4 linked regions of the Homo sapiens genome follow. The protein of the gene in region 2 purifies or fractionates together with the protein of the main gene of each other region. This does not show direct contact. Each region holds a gene or a part of one and is shown on either strand. Other genes may lie near its edges.

Region 1 (7,035 bases), on a different chromosome or scaffold from region 2:
GGTCCCTTTCGCTGCATACTTAGTGCATAGTTGAGATTAAACTTTGCACTCTGCCTCTCCATTTAATATTATAAAAGTGTCTTTTTTTTTGAAATGGAGTTTCCTTCTTGTTGCCCAGGCTGGAACCACTGTCTCCCAGGTTCAAGCGATTCTCTGCCTCAGCCTCCCCAGCAGCTGGGATTACAGGTGTGAGCCACCATGCCTGGACAAAAGTCTCCATATTATTAAACAATCTTCAGAAGCACAGTGCTGAATGACTACAGTAATAATATTCTTACATGGATATATCATACTTTTCTTAACCATTCTTGTTTTATTGGGCATTTTTGATGGAGGATGATAACATTTTCATATTTAATCAGTATTTAAAATTGATGTATTAAAAGTTGAGAACATGAAGGTTTCTTTTGTTTAGTTTTGTTTGTTGGGTATGTATTAAATATACTGTCCTGACTTGAGCTTTATTCACATTTGCTTTCTAGGTTATTCAAGGACACGGAAAAGCCAACACCATGGTAGCATTAATGAACGTTTACCAAGAGGAAGATGAAGCATACCAGGAATTGGTTACCGTGGCAACCATGTTCTTCCAGTACTTATTGCAGCCATTTAGGGCTATGCGAGAAGTTGCAACTTTATGTAAGCTTGATATTTTGGTATGTTTTTTTAAAATTTTTACTTTATCAGATTTACTATTTGTCATAAATTATTTCTTTATTTACACTTAATGTTCAATCTCTGTTTGTACTTTGTTTGGGTTTACCATTATGTTTATTTATTTACTTATTTATTGATAGAGATGAGGTTTTGCCATGTTGCTCAGGCTGGTTTCGAACTCCTGAGCTCAAGCAGTCTGTCCACCTTGGCCTCCCAAAGCACAGCATTACATGTGCCTAGTTTACCCTTATATGTACATATTGAGTTTATATTTAAAATTGATAGAAAATGAAGACATTTACGTTGGTCATCTTAATAGCTTAAGATTCCTACAGATTTGAAAGAGTTAAATGTTTTTTCTGGTGATGAATTTTTTTTTTTTTTTTTTTTTTTTTTTTTTTGAGACAGGGTCTCCCTTTGTCAGCCAGGCTGGAGTGCAGTGGCATGATCTTGGCTCACTGCAACCTCCTCCAGGTTCAAGCGACTCTTCTGTCTCAGCATCCTGAGTAGCTGGGATTACAGGTGTGTACCACCACGCCCAGCTAACTTTTTTTGTATTTTTAGTAGAGACGGGGTTTCACCATGTTGGCCAGGCTGGTCTTGAACTCCTGACCTCAAGCGAGCTACCCATCTCAGCCTCCCAAAGTGCTGGGATTACAAGCATGAGCCACTGCACCCAGCCTGATGAATTGTTTTTGATGTGATATTTATTTGCTTCAGCTTGTTTTCCTCTAAGGACTTACGCAGATTTCTTAAAATAAGATGAAAATTTAAATAGCAGGACCCTAGATTGTAATTCAGTAACTTAAATTTTAGTAAATGCTGTTATCACTCTTGCTTCATTGAGCCATCAGACAACCCTGTGACATCATTCAGAAAAGGCATGCTTATTCCAGTGTTACAAATGAATCTAGAGTCCAGAGGAGTTAAACAGCTTGCCTTGGGTCTCAACAACAGAAATCAGAAGACACCTAAGATGTCTCTTGGTTTCTGCCCCCTGCACCGGGCCATCTTTCCACATATAATCTCATGACCCTTGCCAGATGATTGTATTATAAAAATAGTATCACATTTAGATGAGAGTCATACCACTCTAACCTGTGGATAAAGTTGTTCTGTTCATTATTTTGAAAGTCTATTATTTGGAAAGTCTACTTCTTGCATACATTTTTCCTTTCTTCTTTTTTTTTGAGATAGAGTTTTGCTCTTGTTACCTAGGCTGGAGTGCAGTGGCGCAGTCTCAGCTCATCGCAACCTCTGCCTCCTGGATTCAAGCAATTCTCTTGCCTCAGCCTCCCGAGTAGCTGGGATTACAGGCATGTGCCACCACGCCCAGCTAATTTTGTATTTTTTTAGTAGAGACGGGGTTTCTTCATGTTGGTCAGGCTGGTCTCGAACTCCCGACCTCAGGTGATCTGCCTGCCTTGGGCTCCCAAAGTGCTGGGATTGCAGACATGGGCCACCACACCCAGCCTATATTTTTCCTTTCTTTTTTTTTTTTTTTTTTTTTGAGACAGAGTCTCGCTCTGTCGCCCAGGCTGGAGTGCAGTGGTGCAATCTCAGCTCACTGCAACCTCTGCCTCCTGGGTTCACGCCATTCTCCTGCCTAAGCCTCCCGAGTAGCTGGGACTACAGGTGCCCGCCACCATGCCCGGCTAATTTTTTTGTATTTTTAGTAGAGATGGGGTTTCAACATGTTAGCCAGGATGGTCTTGATCTCCTGACCTCGTGATCCGCCCGTCTCGGCCTCCCAGAGTGCTGGGATTACAGGCGTGAGCCACCGCACCCGGCCTGTTTTTCATAAAAGGTGTTTTAAGATATCACTCACAGATTTTATATATATATATATATATATATATATATATATATATATATATAGTACAATTCAGTGATTTTTAGTATATTCAAAGTTGTGCAGTGATCATTACTGTGTAATTTCAGGACATTTTCACCCCCAAAAGAAACCCTGTACCCTTTAGTCACTCCCAACCCTGGGCAACCACCAATCTACTTTCTGTCTCTGTGGATTTCCCTACTCTGGACATAGCAACAGCATTATTCAATATGTGGTCCTTTCACTCAGCACAATGTTTTCAAGGCTAATCCACGTTGGAGCAAATATCAGGATTTCATTTCTTTTTATTGCTGAGTAATATTCATTGTATGGATATATTACATTTTATTTATCAGTTGATGGACATTTGGGTTGTTTCCACTTTTTGGCTATTATGAATAATTCTGTGAATGTTTGTGTGTAAGTTTCTGTGTAGACATATGTTTTCATTGCTCTTGTGTATGTACTAAGGAGTAGGATTGCTGGGTCCTGTGATTACTCAATGTTTAACCTTTTGAAAGACTGCCAGACAGTTTTCCAAAGTGGGTGCATATTTTATATTCCCAAAAGCAGTAAATGAGGGTTCCGGTTTGTCCACATTATCACCAGCACTTGTTACTGTGTGTCTCTTTGGTTACAGCCATCCTAGTGGGTGTGAAGTGGTATCTCGTTATGGTTTTGATTTGTAATTCCTTGTCGGCTAACTTGTACATATTTCTTAGGCTTTGTAGAAGAAAAATTGCATATTGGATGACATAGCAGTACACGTCTTAGTTCAGGCTGTTATAACAAAGTACCGTAGATTAGTGGCTTATAAACAACAAAACTTTTTTTTCACAGTTCTGGAGGCTGGGTAGTCTGAGATCAAGGTGCTCACAGATCCATTGTCTTGTGAGGGCCAGTTTCTTAATTTGTAGATGACTGTCTTGCTGTGTCTTCGCATGGTGAAGAGCAGAGAAAGAGAGATCCTGTGTCTCCTCTTCTTTTTATAAGGGCATTAATCCCATTCTTGAGGGTTCCACCCTCATGACCTAATTACCCCCCAAAGGCCCCATCTTCAAATATGATCACACTGGGGATTTAGGCTTCAACATATGCATTTTGGGGGGAGTCCAATACCAGTACATGTTATAAGCATGAATATACAGATACTATATTTTAGGTGATTATATTACATATCCCTAAAAGAAACAGTAACAACAGCTAATACTTAAGTGCTGTGTTCCAGGCCCTATGCTGAGTGCTTGACAACACAGATCACTCATTTAAACAATTGTGTATTATTATTAATAGAAGCATAAGTTGACAACATTCCTCTCTAGAAAAAGTTATTCTAGGCATGTGAAGTGAAAGTGGGTTTTTTTTTCGCTTTATGCCCCAGAGTGTCCTTTTGTCTTACAGGTGGTGCTCAGCTTAGAGCCTTATTCATACGCAGTAAGGGACTGCTGAATGAATGAAAATTTAATTGACTGAGTAGTAGTGTAGTTAAATTAATCCATGTGACCAATTTCCTTTCAATTTCCTAATGGCTCTACATAACTATTAGCTCTTACTAAGAAAATTTTCCCTTCTGTCTGTAGAAGTCTTTGGATGAGGATGACCTAGGTCCTAGAAGGGTAGTTGCCCTGGAGAAAGAAGCTGAAGAATGGACCAGACGGGCTGAAGAAGCTGTCGTCTCTATTCAGGATATCACAGTGAATTATTTTAAGGAGACAGTAAAAGCATTAGCAGGTGATAATTTAAAAAATGCTATATGAAGATACATGTAATTGATTATCATTTTATTCAAATACCATTTGAGTCCCTCTTACGCACTAGGTACTATGTTTTCTAGGTGCTGAGAATTCAGTGTCAAGCGTTAAGAGACGTTGTACAGTCTGGTGAAGGGAGAGAAATCTTAATTATCTATTCATTGAAGCACATGGAAAATGGCAGTGACAGTAAATGGCACAAAGAAGAGAGACATGGGCTCTGAGGGTCTGTGAGAGAGAAATTGGGCTTGATCAGGGTGGTGGTCACTGAAGGCCTCTGAGAAGTGGCGCTTGCCCCAATATCTGAAGGGTAAATGGAAGTTGAGAGAAAATAAAAAGTGAGGAGTATTCCGGGCAGAAGGAATAGCACTGCCAAAAGTCCCCTGCCTTGAGGGAAGTTGGCAAATTAGGAGCTTAAAGAAAACCTGCGGGGCTGGATCGCAGAGAGTGCAGGACAGTGTGGTATGAGGGAAAATGCTGGCCAGACAGGCAGGGGTCAGACCATGCAGGGGCTTGTGGGCTGGGTGAAGGACTTTTTTTTAGTCTTAAATAATTGTTGATAAAAACACCAAGTAGGAAACAACTTAACGTCTGTCAGTTTGTTAAGTTATGGTACCTTCATAAAACAGAAAACTACGTAGCTGTTAAGCATGATTCTTGATTTTTTTTTATGAGTGGCAAGAGTTTCTGATACATTGTGCAGAATCAACAAGATAGAAAGCAGAATGATGATCCTGGTTTTGTGGTCAAACTATCCATATGAGCCTGTCTGTCTAGCTAGACATAGAAACAATATGGAAGCAAGTGTGCCAAAATATAAGAAGCAGTTGCCTCAACTAGGTGAGATCATGACTTACTGTCTTTTTAAAAATGGAATACCTAAAATTTTATATCAATGAACATGTATTATTTTTATCATAATAAAAAAGTTAATAAAATTTCTTTTAAAAAGGATATTCTGCAGGTAGTATGGAGGCAATAAAAAAAGGATTAGCTCATGATAAATGTTTCCCTTTTTAATGAGGTGTAATTATATTTTATTTTTATAATCCAACAGGAATGCAGAAAGAAATGGAACAGGATGCGAAGAGATTTGGTCAGGCTGCCTGGGCCACAGCAATTCCCAGGTTGGAAAAACTTCAGCTAATGCTAGCTCGAGAGACTCTGCAACTCATGAGAGCGAAAGAGTTGTGTTTAAATCACAAAAGAGCTGAAATTCAGGGAAAGGTAAGACAAAGATAAACATAACTTTGTTTTAAAAATACACTTTTATTTTTAAAACATTTTGTATAAATAAAGGATACAAGTGCAGTTTTTGTTCCATGGATATATTGTGTAGTGGTGAAGTTTGGGCTTTTAGTGTAATCATCACCTGTATAATGTAATTGTACCTATTAAATATTTCTCATCCCCCCTCCCACCCTCTTACTCTTCTGAGTCTCCAGTGTGTATTATTCCACACTGTGTATACACATTACTTAGCTCCCACTTATAAGTGAGACCATGTGGTAAAGCACACTTTTATTTTTAGATAGCACTTTTCTTTCCAGGCATCGTTAAAGAGCTTCTTTTCTTCGCTTATTCCAACACCATCTTCTGTGGAAGGTTAGACATAAAGTTTTCCTTTGGTTAAGATGTTTCAAAATACCATATTGTAGGTTTCACTTTATAGTAATACCAAGCTCAGTATTGAAATGGGTACTGTACTTGAAAATCAACCCAGCAATGTTTTCACTACAACTTTAAAATAATCAAAGAGATACTTCACTGCATAGTCACTTAAATTTTTTCCTATAATCTTATGACTTTAAAGCAGAAAACACTGTAAACACCTGTCTTAGTTGGCTCAGGCTTCTATAACAAGATTAAATATCACAGATTGGGTGGCTTAAACAACGGACATGTATTTCTCACAGTTCTGGAGGCTGGAAAGTCCAAGATCAAGGTGCCTGCAGATTCACTGTCCGGTGAGGATCCTCTTCCTGTCTGGTAGACAGCTGCCTTCTTAACTGAGTGCTCATATAGCCTTTCTTCTGTGTGTATGTTTAGAAAGAAAGTGATCCCTCTCTTTCTCTTCTAATAAAGGCACTAATCCCATGATGGGGGTGCTATCCTTTTGACATAATCTGAACTTAATTACTTCCAAAGGACCCACCTCCAAATAACATCACACTGGGAGTTAGAGTGTCAACATACGAATTTTTGGGGGGACACCAATATGCAGTACATAATAATACCTCATTGCCATTTATGTTTCTCAGAACCTAAATGTTTTCCTCTGTTTCAAGGATGAGATAAAGTATTTGCATCACTAGATGAAATGAAAAAGTGTTTCTTTCCTATTTGCTTTGTTATATTTAGTACTGAACAAGGAATAGAAAATAGCTAGAATGCTTCTAAAGTTTGTTTTTAATATACTAATTTATTTTAACTTATTTTTCTTTTTTCTATGAAAATAAGATGGAAGATCTTCCAGAACAAGAAAAAAATACAAATGTTGTAGATGAATTAGAAATACAATTTTATGAAATTCAATTAGAACTATATGAAGTTAAATTTGAGATATTAAAAAACGAAGAAATACTGCTTACTACACAGTTGGACTCTCTTAAAAGACTTATAAAAGGTAAAATTTAAGTATATAGATTGCAATGTTTAAATTATAAATTTAAGGAAATACAGACCATATTATCAATTACTTTTTGTAAATTATAACATCTGAAAATTTCCTAAAGTTTTCCTTCAGTGGTTTATTATTCAAATAATATATTCATTGTTAACACATAGCAAAAC
Region 2 (7,617 bases):
ATAAAGCAATGCTCAGAGGGAAATGTATAGCTATAAGTGCCTGTATTAAGAAAAAAAATCTCAAATCAATAACTTAACCTTCCAACTTAAGAAACTGGAAAAAGATGAGCTAACTAAAAGAAAATCAAGCAAAAGGAAGAAAATAATAAAGATTAGGGCAGAGATAAATGAAACAAAGGGAATAGATTAACAATAGAATCAATGAAACCAAAAGTTGGTTCTTTGAAAAGAACAACAAAATTGCCAAACTCTTTTTTGGTTCCATATGGAATTTAAAGTAGTTTTTTCCAATTCTGTGAAGAAAGTCAATGGTAGCTTGACTGGTCATTAGAGAAATGCAAATCAAAACCACAATGAGATAACATCTCACGCCAGTTAGAATGGCAATCATTAAAAAGTCAGGAAACAGTGGCACGTGCCTGTAATCCCAGCTACTCGGGAGGCTGAGGGAGGATAACTGCTTGAGCCCAGGAGATGGAGGTTGCAGTGAGCTGAGATCATGCCACTGCACTGGAGCCTGGCCCACAGAGCGAGACTCTGTCTCAAAAAAAAAAAAAAAGGAAACAACAGATGCTAGAGAGGATGTGGAGAAATAGGAACACTTTTACACTGTTGGTGGGAGTGTAAATTAGTTCAAGCATTGTGGAAGACAGTGTGGTGATTCCTCAAGGATCTTGAACCAGAAATACCATTTGACCCAGCAATCCTATTACTGGGTGTATACCCAAAGGATCATAAATCATTATACTATAAAGACACATGCACACATATGTTTATTGCAGCACTGTTCACAATAGCAAAGACTTGGAACCAACCCAAATGCCCATCAGTGACAGACTGTGTAAAGAAAATGTGGTACATATACACCATGGAATACTATGCAGCCATAAAGAAGGATGAGTGCATGTCCTTTGCAGAGACATGAATGAAGCTGGAAACCATCATTCTCAGCAAACTAACAGAAGAACAGAAAACCAAACACCACATGTTCTGACTCATAAGTGGGAGTTGAACAATGAGAACACATGGACACAGGGAGGGGAACATCACACACCGGGGCCTGTTGGGGGGTGGAGGGGTAGGGGAGGGATAGCATTAGAAAAAATACCTAATGTAGGTGACAGGTTGATGGGTGCAGCACATCACCATGGCGCGTGTATACCTATGCAACAAACCTGCATGTTCGGCACATGTATCCCAGAACTTACTATTTAAAATAAATAAATAAATAAATAAAAACTATTAGGACTAATAAGCAAGTTCAGCAAGGTTGGAGGATATAAAATCAATATGCAAAAATTAATTCCATTTTATAAACTTGCAAGGAGCAATCTAAAAATGAAATTAAGAAAACAATTCCATTCACAATAGCATCATAAATAACAAAATACTTGAAGTACAAAACTTATACACTGAACACTATGAAACATTGTTAAAACAAGTTTTAAAAACCTAAATAAATGGAATGATATCCATCTTGTGCTCATGGATTGAAAGACTTAATTTTAATAAGACAGCAACACTCTCCAAATTGATCTACAGAGTCAAATCAATACCTATTAGCATTCCAACTGCCTTATTTGCAGAAACTGATAAGCTGTTCTTAAAATTCATATGAAATTGCAAAGGGCTCCAAATAACCAAAACAATCTTTGAAAAGATTGGATCCTCCACAGTAGGAGGACTCACACTTTCTGATTTCAGAACTTTCTACAAAGCTACAACAGTCAAGAGAGTGTCATACCAGCATAAGGGCAGACATATAGACCAATGTGTATTGACCATTTCATTTCCTCTTCTGGGAATTGTCTCTTTATATACTTTGTATTTTTTATGTGTAATCTTTTATCATTGCCTTACTGTTTTAAAACAAATCAGCTTTATTAACATAGAAATAGAAAGTCCAAAAATACATCCATACATCCATGGTCAATTGATTTTCCAGAGTGTCAAAATCATTCCATAGAGAAAGAATAGTATCCTCAATAGAGTGCTGGGATAGCTGGATATCCACATGCAAAGGAATGAATTTGAACCCCTTCCTCACACCATGCATAAAAACGAACACAAAATGGATCATAGACCTAAATGAATGAACTACAACTATAAAACTCTTAGAAGAAAGAATGAGTAAACCTTCATGACCTTGGATTGGGCAAAGTATTCTTAGACATGACACCAGAAGCATGAGCAACAAAATAGAAACTCGATAAATTGTACTTCTTAAAAATCTAACTTTGTTTTTCAAAGGACACCCTCAAGAAAGTGAAAAAAAAGAACACACTGAATTGGAGAAAATATTTGCAAATCATATATGTGATAAAGGACTTGTGTCTAGCATATATAAAGAACTCTTATAACTCAATAATACAAAGACTAGTAATCCAGTTTAAAAATGGGCAAAAGATCTAAGTCAATATTTTTCCAAGGAAGATACACAAATGGCCAATAAGAATGTAAAAATATGCTTGAAGTCATCAGTCGTTAGGGAAATGCAAATCAAACTAGAATAAAGTACCACTTCACATCCATGTTAGAGAGAATGTGGAGAAATTGGAACCCCATAGGCTGCCAGTGGGATGTAATATGGTACAGCCACTGTGAAAAAGTCAGGCATTTCATCAAAGGGTTAAACATAGAGTTGCCACAGGACTGAGGAATTCCGTTCTTAGGTATAAATCCCAAAAAACTGAAAACAGATATTAAAAAAAAAAACCTGGCACATGAATATTCGATGGTAGGATTATTTAGAATAGCCAAAAGGTGGGAACAACCCAAATGTCCCTCAATGAATGAATGGATAAACAAGATATGGTCTATCCATATGATGGAATAGTATTCAGCCACAAAAAGGAATGAAGTACTGATACTTGCTACAGTGTGAATGAACCTTGAAAACATTATGCTAAGTGAAAGCAGCCAGTCACAAAAATGCACATATTATATGATTTCATGTATATGAAATGTTCAGAATAGGGAAATTTATAGAGACAGAAAGTACATTAATGGTTGCCAAAGGCTGGAGGAACATGGGATAGAGAGATGATAGCTAAAAGGTTCTGGGTTCCTTTTTTTAAAAAATATATATACATATTTTATTATACTTTTAGTTCTAGGGTACCTGTGCAGAACGTGCAGGTTTGTTACATATGTATACGTGTGCCATGTTGGTGTGCTGCACCCATTAACTCGTCATTTACATTTACATTAGGTAAATGTAATCCCTCCTAATGCTATCCCTCCCCCCTCCCCCCACCCCTCTGGGTTACTTTTTGAAGTGATAAAAATGTTATAAAATTAACTGTGGTGATAGTTGTATATATCTGTGAGTATATTAAAAACCTATGCTAAGAATTGTTCACTTTAAATGGGTGAATTGTACAGTATGTGAATTTTCATGTTAATGAAGCTGATTTTTTTTAAAGAGTAAGGCAACGATAAAAGATTACACATAGAAGGCCGGGCGCGGTGGCTCACGCCTGTAATCCCAGCACTTTGGGAGGCCGAGGCGGGCAGATCACAAGGTCAGGAGATCGAGACCATCCTGGCTAATACAGTGTAACCTTATCTCTACTAAAAATACAAAAAATTAGCCGGGCGTGGTGGCGGGCACCTGTAGTCCCACCTACTCGGGAGGCTGAGGCAGGAGAATGGCATGAACCCGGGAGGTAGAGGTTGCAGTGGGCCGAGATCGCGCCACTGCACTCCAGCCTGGGCGACAGAGAGAGACTCTGTCTCAAAAAAAAAATAAAATAAAATTACACATAAAAAATACAAAGGATATGAAGAGACAATTCCCAGAAGAGGAAATGAAATGGTCAATACACAAGACTTGGTATTGACCTCATCAGTAGTCAGAGAAATGTAAAAATAAAGCAATGAGACATATTTTTATTTAACTAAATTCTATTGAGAAGAATTAAGAAAGAATAAAACATACATATGATGCTTGAAATAATGCAGAGCGATGGTCTTTTCACACATTGCTGGGTAGAATTTAAACTGTTAAATAGTTTTGGAAAGTAGAATGCCCATGTCCGTTAAATTTAAAATACTTATACTCTTTGAATTCATGGCCCCTTTTTTAAGACTGTAGCTCACAGAAATAAAATACTTGTGGCTACACTTTAAAATAAGTTATGACAAAAGGGAAATTAGGTGGAAATGGAAAGATATTTATGTTGCTTTATTAATTGCAAAAAGCAATTATTAATTGAAAGTAAGGCCCCAGTTTAATTTTTGTAAAAACAAACAGCAATAAATGCATATAGGAATACAAACACATATAATATTTGTGTGTTTATGTGAGCATGGAAACACTTGTAGACTAATATATAATTATGTGCCTTCCCTTTTTTGTGCAGTTTTGTATTGCTTTGCTAGTTTCAATGAAAAGGTATGACATTGGCAGTTTGAACGACAGAGAACAGTTTTAATGAACAGAGGGTGGGTGGGGTAGTTAGAAAGGGAGGGATCGCGCTAATGTTGCAGCCATTTTGTGTGCGCTCCTCTTACAGATAGTGCGGCGGCCCAGGCGTCGCGTCTACGCGGGGGATTACAGTAACCCGGTTGTCAGTGATGAGTCAGAGTGCGTGGTGCTGATGCTGCTGCCATTTCATCACCTTTGCGAGCGCAGCATCCATCCCTCCGCTCTCCCGGCGCCTGGGCCTACCCAGCTTCGGGCTCCCAGGCCAGCGATGCGCTCGCGGCTGAGCTAGATCCTGCCGAGCCGCGCTCTCTGAGGCGTCGGCGGGGCGCCCCCTCCCGCCGTCCCCGGTCCGGGCCAAGGAGACCTGCAGAGCCGCGGCCATGGAGGCCATCTGGCTGTACCAGTTCCGGCTCATTGTCATCGGGGATTCCACAGTGGGCAAGTCCTGCCTGATCCGCCGCTTCACCGAGGGTCGCTTTGCCCAGGTTTCTGACCCCACCGTGGGGGTGGATTTTTTCTCCCGCTTGGTGGAGATCGAGCCAGGAAAACGCATCAAGCTCCAGATCTGGGATACCGCGGGTCAAGAGAGGTTCAGGTGGGAGCGCAGTCCGGGCCCGCAAGCAGTGGGAGGGTCTTCGGGGTTTGCACCGCCTCTGGGGAGAGAGGACTTCCTGGTTCTAGGTGCGGTCCAGGAGGGCAACACCAAGGGTCTTGAGGATTCTGCCGAAGCCCACCTTCGGCTAACCCGGAGTTTAGTGCAAGGAAAGAAGCGCCCTGGCAGGGAAGGCCGGTCAATAACACATATTGCTTGCACCACAACTCCACCAACCTGCCCTTTGGTGGCTAACAAACTAGCTGGAATTGATCTCTGTATCTGTAATTCATCAATCTCAGTCCCTATGTTACATACTTTCAAAAACGTTCCCAGGTCATCCTAACATAACTGACAGAGATTTAAATACATAAATACATGTGTATTATGTTTTATTTCCACATCTGTGTGTGTGCACATATATATGCTAACATATGTTCTAACATGAAATAGATACGATTGATTCCTTCTTGCAACCAGCACACATTCAGTGATCATCTACTATGTGCCAGACTCTGGGCTTGTTCCTGGGAAAACAGTGTGAGGAGACTCACACAAGGGGATGCCATGTAATCTAAACAGACAAAGCCCCTTCATTCTTGGAACTTCTGTGCTAACATAGTTGAGGGAAATAGATAATCAGCAATTACGAAAGTGTGTCTTGCTCATATTTGTATGCCCACTCCCTACTGTAACACTTGGCACAAAATGAACATGCTTAATTTCAATCAATGAATTCATTGAATAATCAATGAATATGTTTACTTTCACTCAGAACCCTTTGCTTTTCTATTGTAGCATGTATTATTTGTAATTATATGTATGAACACAGAGGAGGAAAGGTTAACTGGAGAAGATGAGACCGGATGAGTATGACTGCCTAAGCAAAGACAGGAAACGCCCAGGGATAGGAAACAGCATGAATAAAGACAGAAGTGAGAGGGAGCAGAGTGTACACAGAAAACTTTGCAGAGAACAATTTGAACTAAAGTAGAGCAGCAGGAACCAGATCAAGAAAACTCAATAGCCCAAGTTTATGATCATTTACTCATTTATCTATTGAAAACTAACTAAGCATAGAAGATACTGGTTGGGTAATTGAAGAGGGGTAAGGAGAAGAAATAATTACAAACTTAAGTTACCTCCAGCTCCCCACTTCCACAAACACCACTGTGGAAAATATCCTTGTACAGGTTCACTTTGAACTTGCGATTGCATTTCTCCTAAGCAAAGAAAGGTATCTTTTATGTGTTTGTTGGAATTTCTTTCTATATGAACAGCCTGTTCATATCCACTGCTTATTTATTTATTGGGCAATATGGACTTGTAAGAGTACTTTATAGATTAAGAATATTAACCCTTTCCTGTCATGTATGTTGTAAGATATATTCCTAGTTTATCATCTGTCTTTTCACATTATTTAAGATTTTTTAATGTAGGGAAGAATTTAAGGTTTATGTAGCCTTATGTCCATGCTTAGAAGGCCTTTGTCACTTTCTTTGCTAAGTACTCACAAACAATTAATGTAATAATATATTCCAGAGTTTTGACAGTGATCTACAGCTTGCTTGTTGATTTCTTGAATCAACCTTCTCACAAATCAAAACCTTTGTTTGTTCATGTCTAAATTTTCTGGTAAATCTACCATTCTCCATGAATCTTCAAACCTAAGAGACGAGAAATGCTTTCAGTCCCCAGGGCTGATTTGCCTGATTTTGGAGACTTAAAGTCATTTGTAAGTTTTACTTTTACCATCATCTAGCTTGGACTGTAGGTCCCTGGACAATGCTTGTTCTGCTAACATTGAGCCATTTTCTCTAAGCTATTGAGTCCTTCGTTGTCTATCTTCTTTATCTGAGGAGACAGAAAACCTAAAAATAGACATAGGTAAAAAAAATCACAGTAGTCTAAAGCAAGTGACTGCAGAGACAAATAGGTCCATACCCTGTAATAAGCTTTAATACACTGTAAGCAAAGTGCCATAATGTATATTTATAATGAGGTTCCTCAAGTCAAGAAGTTAAAACATGTGAAGTTTCTTCTGATGGCTCCTGAGTTGAGTTGGCCTCTCTGAAATGTGTCAGGAAACAGGGCTGAGAGGCACTTTGCCTGAACCCTTCGCCATCTCTCTTTTTCCCATTCCCACAGGCCTTGAAAATAAAAAATAAAATTGTGTTTCTCCTCACAGAAGAGATTGAGGATCCCTGTTAGCTAATAATAATAATAATAATAATAATAAACAATAATAATAATGGAAAGAGAAAAAAACATGGTAATGATAAATGGAAAAAATGGAGTAGCAAGATACCTACTTTAAATATTTTGTTAACTATCATAAATTCATTTCTATGTTTTAAAAATCCTGTTTCAACTGCTAGCATTTGTAATGAACTCTCCACGTCACAGAACACTTTAATATCCATTGTTTCATTTTGCCTCATGGTAACACTGTGACTTGGGTATCCTATTTTGCAGAAAAGGAAGTCTCTGTCAGTTATTCAGATTTGGGGGGTGGGAGAGTTAGTTGTAGTTTTACCTGAAGGCAAGAAATAGAACTCAGTTATGTCCCAGGGTCACTCTCCAGTGCTGAATCCAT
Region 3 (4,158 bases), on a different chromosome or scaffold from region 2:
CAGGGTTTCACGCTGGTGGACGTTGGTGTTTCCGAGTCATGTCCACCCCCGCACTTCACCTCTGTCCTCGGTGGGGAGCCTTCCTGCTTCCCTCGGCCCAGCCTGGCAACAATGACGCTGCTCGCTACGCTTGTCCTGCGAGGTAGGGCTTGGCTGTCCAAATCCACAGATGCAGAGCCTGAGGCTTGGATGGGCAGCCACCTGCCCAACAGGGAAAAGATGCAGAATGTGGACCACGCTCCCTGTACCCGGCAGGGGTAGGGCGGGGACATTTCCTGATGGTGCCAACTGCCCCTTAGCAGTTATTCCCGGGTTGTATGAGCCCCGACAACCTCTTAGGAACCTGGGGATGGGAGGGAACCTGGTGCGGGGAGGAGGGAGAGGGAGGGGCTCCAGCCACCACACCCCTGCCAAGCAGCTGCGCCGGGATGAGGGGTCATTGGCTGGGAACCTTCCCCTGTGCCAGGCCACGGCCTCCTGCCACAGCCCCCAGGAGCAGCACGCTACATTCTTGGTAACTTTTTTTCTCTTTTATTGCCAAGTTTAAATTTACAAGGAAGTTCCAGTTTTCATTTCCACCCTCGTGTTCAGTACCCACGAAGCATGAGTCATGCTGGCGAAAGCAGGTACTTCCCTAGAGCGGTCCCGAGGCTCAGAGGCATCGAGGTTTTCTAACCCTCGGTTCTCACTGGGACAAAAATTATTTACATATTTTTAGCTCAAGGAAACATAAGGAACTCGTACAGTGTAGGCCCAATGTCAAGATGACTACATTAAATGCTTCAGATTTATTTATTGCATCTAGACAAGAAGATCAAAATCAGTTCACCCCACGCCTTTTTAAAAAACGGTGCATCTCAGAGACCTTAGAGGAATCTAGCGCGTCTGGCAGGGCTGCGCTTCTTCACCTGCCCCTTAGGTTGCTTGTGAACGCAAGTGTCTGGGTTGTGGGAGGCTGCCAAGGCTCCGGGAGAGGGACTGGGCTGGGACAGCGGCAGAGGAGGGGCTGCTCACGGAGGCCCCTCCTCCCAATCCCACGCGATGGTGAAGGCTGGCCCTTCCTGCCTGGGGGAGCGCCTCAGCTGGCCCCATCTGACCTGCTGGGACAGGTACCTTGCACGTCCAGAAAGGGACGAGCACACCTCCACAACAATATTCAAAGCCAAGGTTTGGGAGTTCCTGCGGCCAGCCCTGCTCCCTGACTTGGCAAACCCAGCCGGAGGTGCACAGGGGAAGGGTGGACCAGGGCCTGGGCCATAACTCTAAGTGCTCTCTGCAGGGACTTGGGGGGCGGGCCGGATGGGTCTGTGGGGGCTGACCTCAGACCTCTGAGGCTATGACCTGAGTGTCAGAAGCCACAGCCCCCACTGTGGGCCTTCCCACACTCCTGGCTCTTCCTCTGGATGCCAGGGGCCCAGCGTGTCCTGTCTGGACTGGCCTGTCTGGGAGCGCCCCAGCTATGAGGTTTGACGGGAGCTCCTGAAGACATAGCTGTGCCCACTGCCGCTGAGACCTGGGTGAGGTGGGGTCCTTTGAAGCCAAAATGGCTGGTGGCCTCCAATGGGCTGGCTCCCAGACCTCCTTACATAAGCAAAGCTTCTGGGAGCCCTGGTTATAGGAAATCCTCACCCCACACACCTGGAGGTGTCCCCCAGACGCAAGTTGCCAGCCCCAGCTGAAAGAGGCCCCTGAGAGTGACCCTGCAAGCCCACATGGGGACTGCCCTTTTCTTGGCCAGGGATGCAGGGTAGAAGCCCTGCCCTGAGCAGTGTCTTTTATCCTCCGCTGGTCCTCCCAGTCACCTTTAATCCTCTGCTGGTCCTCCCGGGCATGCTGTCCAGCCCTGACCAAGACCTCTCTCCTTCAGTGCTCAGTGGTTACAAGACCAGTTGGAGCCCAGAGACTTCTGACAGCAGGCTGGTGGCCCACCCGTGTGGCATGGAGTGAGCTGCAGGCTGTTCCTCCTGGTCACGCCTTGGGGTGGGGCAGCCACTTGCCTTCTCTAGTTTCTGCTGCCCCACAGACAGAGTCATTTCAAAACCAGAAGTGCATGTCTCAGGGGCTAGCCATCTCCAGCCAGGGCCAGCTTGATCCTCTCTACCCCTCTTGCTCTTAAAAAATTAAGCAACACACAGGCTGCCTGCTGGGTGTGGCGTGTCCCGTCTCCTGATGCTGTGGTCCTTCTCTCCATGATGGTCTTCCCCCCGCTCCACCCTGCCTTCCTTCTCTTCCAGGGATTCTGCAGATGGCCACGGTGGTCGTGGTTTGTCCTTCCTTTGGGTTTCTGCCCATGTGGCCCCCTTTCTGAGCTGTGCGTTTTCTCTATGGAAGCAAAGGTCCTTGTACCTGCAGCCATGAAGGCTGGGTGGGCACAGCTACCCAGAGGGCTTCTAAGGACTGAGGCCTGTCCCCATGGGCGCCACTCCCCCTCCTTGGCAGGACTGTGTTTCCTTCATGAGGTTGAAAACTGCCCTCGGCAGGCCTTGCCGGGACAGCTGGCTGGGCCGAGGAGACAGAGACCATGTTCTTCTAAAATGCAGGTGGCAAAAGATCTCAGCGCGGCTCCCGAGACTACCCTATGGCCAGGCTCCGGCGGATACCTAATGCCCCTGGTGGGCACATCTGCTGGCAGGTCTGGAGGAAAGTTGTGGAAGGTCTCACCAGTGACCAGAGAGGTGAGGGGCCGCTGGCCCTGGTGGACTTGGGGAGGGTGGATCACGGCCTGGGCTGTGAGTGCTGTGTCTGGCTCCCGAGCTGGCCGAGTAGAAAGGAACATCTTGGGGGCTGTGTCTGATGCATCTGGGTCCTTGCTTGTACACACCCAGTCCGAATGGGGAAGGGAACCATGGGGTTTCCATATTCAGATCAGCAGCAGTAGCAGAGGGAGAGTGACAGACTCAGAGCTCTGGGGACACCATGCCCTTGCAGCTGGAGGGGAACTGGCTCTGGGCCATCTCTCGGCACATGTGGGCACACACAGTCGAGGGCAGGTGACGTAGAGGGTGTCTTCCTTTGATTTCCATCATGGCCACAGGGTCGGGAGTCTTCACGGTCCCAACTGGTTCCTTCTTAGAGATGGTAACACTGAAGAAGGTGCTGGAAGCTGTCTCTGTTTGGTTTTGGTGAAGAGAAATGAGGAAGCGTCCTGAGTGGGGAGCTGGCTACATTCCTCCTTTTCCTGGAGAAATCTTTCCATGATGGGAGGCCTCTCGGCTGCTATAGCAGAAAACCATTCAGCCCTCTCAGCTCTGTGTGTACCTGAGAATACATGTATCTCCCTTGTTTTTGTTTAAAAAATAATCCAAACTTTCCAGGAAGGTACTTCATTATTCCACAGGCTTGCAGAGTTAGTGAGTAACAAAGAATCACTTAAATAAATGGAAAAAGCCACACTAAGAACTCTGAAACAAAATATCAGGAAAGGTCCAGTGAAAATGATCATGAAATCTTAACTGTTATTATTACACTTTTCACATGACATCAAACCTTAGTGTTGATGTTTTTGGACTTCTTTTAAATAGAAGTTTTAAAAATAAATGTTCACCTGCTGCCAAAAGCGGAAATAAATATCCAAAGGAGATGTTTATCTAAGTCTGCTTTTCTACAAATTTCTACGTACAGTGACCTGGTCCAATTCTTCTGTGCACACTGGGGCTGGTGACAGAGGAGCCATATGACAGAGGAAGAAAGAGGTGCCGGTGGGTCCTGCCACCCGGGGCTCAGAGACACGGAGCCCAGGCAGCTCCCTGAGTGGCCGGTGCAGTCATCTGCATTCGCCGCGGTGTCTCCGCTGGTCCCAGCCTGCACGTGAAGAGATGCAAAGTGAAAAAGGAATTCAAGGACAACGTGGGGCTTCTTCCCATTCAAGGGAGCGCAGGGATAGGTGGTTGAGATGGCTGCTGGGGGCCGCACAGAATGGTGGGTGCTCCCAGTGTGTCTTGCCAGTCAGCGGCACTGGGGTCCCTACCAGCGGGGCCACACACACAAAGGGAGGCCCCGGCACTGACTCAGTCCTCAGCGGTGCCCACAGGCTCAGCACATGCAGCCTCTTCGCCCACGGGCTCTGTGCAGGCGGCAGCCGGCGTGGACAGCGGGGGCATGCCGGTGAGGCTGCGGAGGCTGTGGGGGTCAACTGGGGGGACAAGGGTCAGCGATTCG
Region 4 (7,035 bases), on a different chromosome or scaffold from region 2:
ATAATTATAGATATGTCATGTTAAATGAGTATATGAAAATTGCTTGGCACATGGTATACACCCAACGGATCAGTTATTTTTGTCTCCCCAGTACATCTGTGCCCTTTCTTCTTTAAATCTATGGTTTTATTTATTTACAAAATAGGAATATTTTGCAGATAGCATATCATTAGCTTTGCAGTTTGAGTCTACATTTTAAAGATAAAAACCTATTTTCATTTACTGTAATAATCACAACCTTTGTCTTCATTTAATTTTCTTGTTTCCTTTCCATCTTTTGCTGTACAGACTTAGTTTCTTTGCTTTTTTTTTTTTTTTTTTTGCATTGATATGAATAGTTTCACTAATTCCATTCATGGTTACTGTAAACATTCTTAAAACTTTGTTTTATGGGATTATCAGAGTAACAAAATAATGTAGTCCCTTTATGGACTATAAGTAACTTAATGCTTTTCTTTCCCTATTTCATATCCCCATATTTGGTGCAATAATTTAATTCACTTACTTCATTATTTTGTTTTGCATTGTATTTTACACCTACATTTACACTATTAACTTATTTGTACATACTTAAATGGTTTCAGTGTGAAAAAGCAGCTTCTGACCTAGCATTCACACTAGGCGGTGGCGTTCTCCTGCTGAACATTTAACAATTCTCAAATCTCTAACATCAGATGAGGTCACTGTAATCCGGATAAAATGAGATACTGTAATCATGCCTGAGCACAGATAAAAACAAAGTCACTGTGCAAACCATAAACAGCCAACCTCTTCTTGTGGCTAACATGGGTGACTGTTGCTTCTTTCCTTTCCTCCCACCCACAACATAAAAATTAAGATACCCAGTTGCAAAATCACTCCCACTTTCTGACAGCACTCAATCCACTTTCTGACAGCACTCAATCCAGAAGAAACCCTTGCTCACTTGAGCCCTCCTTAAAATTAGCTACATGTGCTCAAATTCTTAGCAAGCCCCTCCTTACACCTTCCCACTGAGAAGCACCCATAGACCCCAGTGGTGTGCAGTCTCTCTTGCTGCAGCAAGCATCAATAAAACTAATTTTGATTATAATTATGCCCTGGTGATCTTTGATGACATCAACAAATGATGAGCATCAACAAATGTTTGCCGCAGAATTTTCTACCATCACCTACCCTCCAATCTTAAAGTTTTGAATTATCTCTTTATGATACCCTGTCCCCTGGTTGGACTATCAGCCCTATTAAGACTCAAGCCCCAGAGCTTTCTCTTGTGCCTGGAATATGGCAGGATCATAATTAGACGAGGAAAGGATGAATGTTTTTCTACTTACATATTTCTATAAATATTTTAGAGGGAAATTAGAAGATGATTCAGTAGTTTGTATTGGGCCTACTTGTCTTGATTTTTTGAAAACTGTATAATTTTGAATAACTTCTATATATCAGGATCTGTAATTGTTATTTTTATATCAATAAAAAAAACCTCTAATACTTCTATTGAAAAATATTGATTACATAACAACATGAAAATAACTTGGCTAACGCTCACAACTATGTAAAAAAATGCATTGGAGAGACAGAAAAGAAATACATGAAAACATTGGCAGCAGTTACCTTTAGGTGACAGAACTGTGGGTTAATTTTATTCTTCCCTATATTTTCTGTATTTTCCAAATTTTCTGAAGTCACTATGATTGCATTTTAACAATGGTTAAAACTATTGATTTGCATACTCATGGGAGAAAAACAGCTATGCCTAGAAACTGGCCTCTAAAACATTTCTCACAGTAGAGAGGCTCAATTGTCATGAATGTGTGAATAATACTAACAAGTCAAAACATAGTTCTGTAATGTGTTCAAGCCACATTATCCTAGAGGTTAACTGCTCAGAAGAATCTCACAAAGAGTCAAAGTCAGAGGACAAAGCCATTAGTGTGAAGAAACAGTAAAATCATAAAAAAGAAGACAGTCAGGACAAGAAATACCTGAAGCAAAATGACACAAAATGGATGTACTATAAATTATGGATGAAAGTAACAGGGTAGGAAATCAGAGCATAACCAAGCTTGGGCATGTCTGCTTTACCTCTTTGTCACTTAATCAACTCGAGCCTTCCACTGCCAACAGTCTTCTTACACAGTGGATCCTCGAAATAATATCACCACTCCTTTCAACCACAATCAATCATCAATAAAATGCAAATAAAAAGATTGTACTTAAACACTATTGGAGAAGGAAGGAATGAATAAATGCATTCATTTCTACTACTATTTGTTTATGCTAAACTGTAAACTAAAATTCTTAATTCGATCACAGTCTTATATAATATACAGAGTGGATGGTTTCTTGTTTTTACTCCCCCTACCTTAAACCCCAATCCATTTCCCCTTCCTAACAGCACCCTGAATTTCCAACCCTCACACAACTGTTAGCTACATGCTTTGTGTGATATTAACTTCACACTCAAACACAGGATATCCTAGGGAAGTATTAATAAATAAAATTCAATCATAGTCAATGATGAGATGTTTCTAGGACTTCTGGAGAAGATATGCTCTTTTAGTCTGTCCTTGCCCTGGATGGGAGATCTGAGGATGTAAGTGTGGAATTATCACATCTTGTCAAGAACCTGGCATTACAGAAGAGGTTTTTTATGGGTGGCAGGGTGACAGGTCTTGCTCTGTCACCCAGGCTGGACTGCAGTGATGTGATCATGGCTCACTGCAGCCTCGACCTCCTGGGCTCAAGTGATCTTCCCACCCCAGCCTCCTGAGAAGCTGGGACTACAGGCATGTGGCACCACACCCAGCTGATCTGTTTTTAAATTTTTTCTGTAGAGACATGGTCTCACTATATTGCCTTAGCTGGTCTCAAACTCCTGGGCTCACGCTATCCTCCCGACTCAGCCTCCCAAAGTGTTTTGATTACAGGTGTGAGCCACCGCGCCCGGCCGAGAGTTCTATATAGAGTTTGAGAGCAAAACCAGCACCAGGGAAGGCAGAGTGGAGATGAGTCCTTGCTAACATTGTGTGAGCTGCTCGATCTAAATGGAATCAAAGCTAGAGCTACCTCTAATTTTCTCAGTTATGTCATTCAAAAATTTTTCTTTCTGCTTCAGTCACTTGAAGTTAGATTTCTGTCACATATATCTGTTAAATTCTTGATTAATATTAATATTTAAATAAAACTTTCTTAACTCAGTGAATCTGAAGTGACAACTACACATGTATTTTGGTAAAGCAATATACCAAGTGTGTTCACTTGGTAATCATTCACTAAGCAACACATGTATAATCTGCCTACTTTACCATACAGATGTTATTGCTTATGTTCAAAATGTCAGGTTCACGAAAAGGTGCAGGGAGAAGAAATGCTGTTGTATATGTTAAGCCATCGATATACAAATCACGCTGCTAATAAAAAAAAAAGCTTATCATAAACAGTCTATCAGATCAGAGTTCCAGGTTCAGCTGAGGTCAAAATCTACTCTAAAGCTCCTTGCACCCAGAAGGCACCTCAACGAATACCTGTTGTTAAATAAATAAACCTTGGGGTTTGTTGTTGAAACTTTAAAGAAAAACATGACTCTTACTTACTCACAGGGGACTTATAATCTATAAGGTAAGCAAGATAAAGAAAGGGCCATCATAGGTATAATTCTAAAAGTGAGAATGGGAAAAGCAAGTTATGGTTAAAAAAATGAATGAGATGAAATTGGATCTGCCATTAGGATAAAAAAGAATTCATGTGACAGAGCTAGGAAACTCTTAGGTGAAAAAGATCCCACAAAACCCCTAAATCATATTTACTGTTAGTGGCAGAGAATCTCATAAATGTCTAAAGAACAAAACACAGTTTGTATTATGCTCAAACTAAGGCATTTTATTAGCTGGCTTTACAACTTAAATAATATCTTGGCTTTCAAAGGAACAGCTTCCACTAATTCCAAATTAAACTTTCACAAGTTTACTTGTTTGGGGAGGGACATTCTTATGGTCACCACAAAATACTTTTATTATAACCTTCCCCAAATCTTTTCTTAGCATTAACTGGAAAAAAAAAAAAAAAAAAAGCTTAGGTCAAATATCAACTGCCTGAAAAACCCAATTAAGTTACTTTTCCTTAAAACATGTGCAGTATAATTGAATCAAAAGAGAAAACTGCAAATACATTGTGCTTTGGCCAGAAGTAGAGTTCATTTCATGATGATTCAGTATCTTCAGATACTATTTTTGACACTTGCCATAAATCTTAGCAAAGTAAATCCATTTATTAACGTTTCAAAGGCAAAGTTGTTTTTAACATTAGACTTTCTTTGCCAGTTGGCAACTTAGAATTTTTGCAGAGGTGATTATTAATACTTCTTTGCAGCTAATTTTAGCTTTAATTTTTCTCTCTCATCTAAAAACATATCAATTGCACATTGTTCCTTTGACTTAATAACTGCATTCTTGAAACAGAGGTTAGCTATTTCACTGTATCCAGAAACGTGGTAGAAATTCTGACCCATCATTCTTTTATCTGTTAAAACAAAAAAAAAAAAGACATTTGCTGTAATTTAATCAATCACATTATAAGAACAACAAAGGGAAAATTATGGTGAAAGAATTATTATATCAAGAGAAAATCTTTTTCTTTGTCCTGCAACTTTCTTCCTTTCCTAGTCATGCCATTTCTGCAATTTACTATAATCTCTCCATTATTCTCCACAAATGACTCTATCTTATTTTTAGAATGCTCTTTTAGAAAGAATGCCTTGATAGATTAAATGTGATATTGATGGCAACGATATCAGCTACCAATATTGGATGCTTTTTATGTGCTGAGTGCTTTGCACGTTATCATTTCATTTCAACACAACTCTAGGAGGTAGATTCTATTATCCTATTTTTACACTGAAGGAGGTAAATTGAAGGAGAAATGCATTTATGCCGCTAAAAACTGGTGGAGCAAGAACACAAATGGGCAGTGTAACTCTGAAAGCTGTTTTCTTCACCTCCACCCCACACCGCCTTCCATATGTATTTTACTTAAATTATGTATATAGAGTTTCTTGGTGCTTTAGCAACTTAAAAGAAAGATTTTTCATGATATGTGTAACTCACTTTTGATGCAACTTAAAGTTTATGTTATATCCAATTAAATAAACTAGTTTTAGGCAGAAAACAATCATGTGGAGTAATGAAGTACCCTTTAAAATACAATATTCATAAGATTCATATTAATTATGATAGTGTAGAAGAAATTAAATCATTGAAATTTTCTGGTTCATTTCTGGCTGTTTTCTCCAGCAATTAGAATTTAATATAAATTCTAATTTCTTGTTCTAGTAGCATAACTGTGTTTCCTTTAAGGCATAAAATCTCACTGAAGATTTTACCAATCTTCCAAATATAACCCTATCCCTTAAAGGACCACTACAACCTAAAATGAGTAAGGCTTCTCCTAATCAATGCTTTTTCTTTCATTCCCTCAATGCTTTCTTTTCATTCCTAAAAGGTAAAAAAGAAAAGGCATCATAACTATGGATATATAATGAGTCACTTTAAAATAAAATACCTCAGTGACAACACCAGCAGCTATTGTAGAACCACCGTAACGTAGCATGAACCTCCCCAGCTCTTTAAAGTCTTTATATAGCTCAAGAGCTATTGGTCTTTGTGTCTGTAGCTCTACCAATGCATTCTGGCCTTTAGTCAAAAACCTATTAAGAAAAAAAAAGAACAAATGAATATATGATAGAGGTGAATAAATGTAATAATAACAACTTGAAAAACAAATATTTCACATTTAACCAACATATCAACTGAGTCTTTCAAAAACAAGAAAAATATTTTTTGAATGAAAATATATGTCTTTGGACTTTCTGCTTTAGTTGAAAGAAATGAGGAGTAATTCTAGATTTAAGAAACATTAGGTAGTTCATTTTTACCAATCTTCCAAATATAACTCTATCCCTTACGGGACCACTATAGCCTAAAATGCTTAAGGCCCCTCATCATGAAATAAATGCTTTTTCTTTCATTCCCTCAAGAAAGTGAGTTCAATTATCTAATAAAGAAAGTTATACTAAGGCTTATTTCTATAAAAAAGTATTTGCAAAGAGGAATATAATGCCCTATGTCTTTCCTAGTAAAACTGTAATTTATGGAATGTGTATTAGGAAGTTATCTGTGAAGAGGACAATCAATCTGTTGTTGCTAAGATTCCCCTCAATCAATCAAGCAATCTCTCTCTTTCCCCACACAGGAATAATAGTTCCTTAGCAGGAGTTCAGGACAAAAATCACATAAGTAGCTTTTCCACAATATGATACTTGTAAAATATGAAGGAAGACAGGGCATGGACCAGACTGTAAATGATTTCATAAAAATAAGTGAACAAAAATCTCTAGGCTAGGCCCTGCTCAGACTTAGTGAGAGAGGCAGAACCTAAAAAGGGACATTTTGGAATTGTTTTCTAATTTAATTTTTATGTACTCTAGAAGTATAGTGGACAGAAATCATAAACTCTCCTTTTGAAAGATAAGTTCAGGGGCAGACGACTAAAAGAAGGTTCTAAAAAAATACACCAAAAATTCCAAATATTGGTTTTGGACAATTTCAGGCTTAAGTTCATTCCTTAGGAAGGAGAGCATCTAATACATAAATGGCTTGTTCCTAATTTAGTTTCTAGAACATTAAATTCCATTCTGCATAAAGCAATCAAGAGCCTACAACGTGCCTGAACAGGAATGAAAGGGAAAGGCCAAACGGTTGTGCAAAATAAAAGGATAAAGCTACAAATAAGATGACAGGGAACACAAACACGAGAATATGTTAAACTCTACCATCATTGAGCTAGGATTTTGTAGCAGGAGCATGGAGGGGAAGACTCAGGATTATATATGATGAGCCAATTTCAGACTGAAAATTCTGTATCAGTTGTCTAGGTCAAACAACCTGGCTCCTGAACAAAAGAATATAATTTATGTAAACCAACTGACTAGGTTAGAATCCTGCCTCTACCACTTGAGCTTTGTGTCACTTGCTAGATGCTTCACAGGATTGCTAA

The links.
Region 1: the proteins of RAB39B (region 2) and WHAMM purify together in Homo sapiens (affinity purification with mass spectrometry; 2 studies listed by BioGRID and IntAct, with this or other methods). This does not show direct contact.
Region 3: the proteins of RAB39B (region 2) and CLEC16A purify together in Homo sapiens (co-immunoprecipitation; 3 studies listed by BioGRID and IntAct, with this or other methods). This does not show direct contact.
Region 4: the proteins of RAB39B (region 2) and HBS1L purify together in Homo sapiens (affinity purification with mass spectrometry; 2 studies listed by BioGRID and IntAct, with this or other methods). This does not show direct contact.

Annotation. Positions count from the first base shown.
Region 1 is NC_000015.10:82,812,621-82,819,655, forward strand, and holds part of WHAMM (WASP homolog-associated protein with actin, membranes and microtubules), read left to right. Parts: intron 1-482; coding exon 483-656; intron 657-4,071; coding exon 4,072-4,222; intron 4,223-4,258; exon of another isoform or gene 4,259-4,967; coding exon of another isoform or gene 4,968-5,082; intron 5,083-5,299; coding exon 5,300-5,469; intron 5,470-6,702; coding exon 6,703-6,868; intron 6,869-7,035. UniProt on the Homo sapiens protein: Acts as a nucleation-promoting factor (NPF) that stimulates Arp2/3-mediated actin polymerization both at the Golgi apparatus and along tubular membranes. Its activity in membrane tubulation requires F-actin and interaction with microtubules.
Region 2 is NC_000023.11:155,261,481-155,269,097, reverse strand, and holds the start of RAB39B (ras-related protein Rab-39B), read left to right. Parts: upstream 1-4,606; 5' UTR 4,607-4,809; coding exon 4,810-5,024; intron 5,025-7,617. UniProt on the Homo sapiens protein: The small GTPases Rab are key regulators of intracellular membrane trafficking, from the formation of transport vesicles to their fusion with membranes.
Region 3 is NC_000016.10:11,178,540-11,182,697, reverse strand, and holds the end of CLEC16A (protein CLEC16A), read right to left. Parts: coding exon 4,008-4,158; 3' UTR 512-4,007; downstream 1-511. UniProt on the Homo sapiens protein: Regulator of mitophagy through the upstream regulation of the RNF41/NRDP1-PRKN pathway. Mitophagy is a selective form of autophagy necessary for mitochondrial quality control.
Region 4 is NC_000006.12:134,960,788-134,967,822, forward strand, and holds part of HBS1L (HBS1-like protein), read right to left. Parts: intron 5,687-7,035; coding exon 5,542-5,686; exon of another isoform or gene 5,539-5,541; intron 4,504-5,538; coding exon 4,492-4,503; 3' UTR 1-4,491. UniProt on the Homo sapiens protein: GTPase component of the Pelota-HBS1L complex, a complex that recognizes stalled ribosomes and triggers the No-Go Decay (NGD) pathway.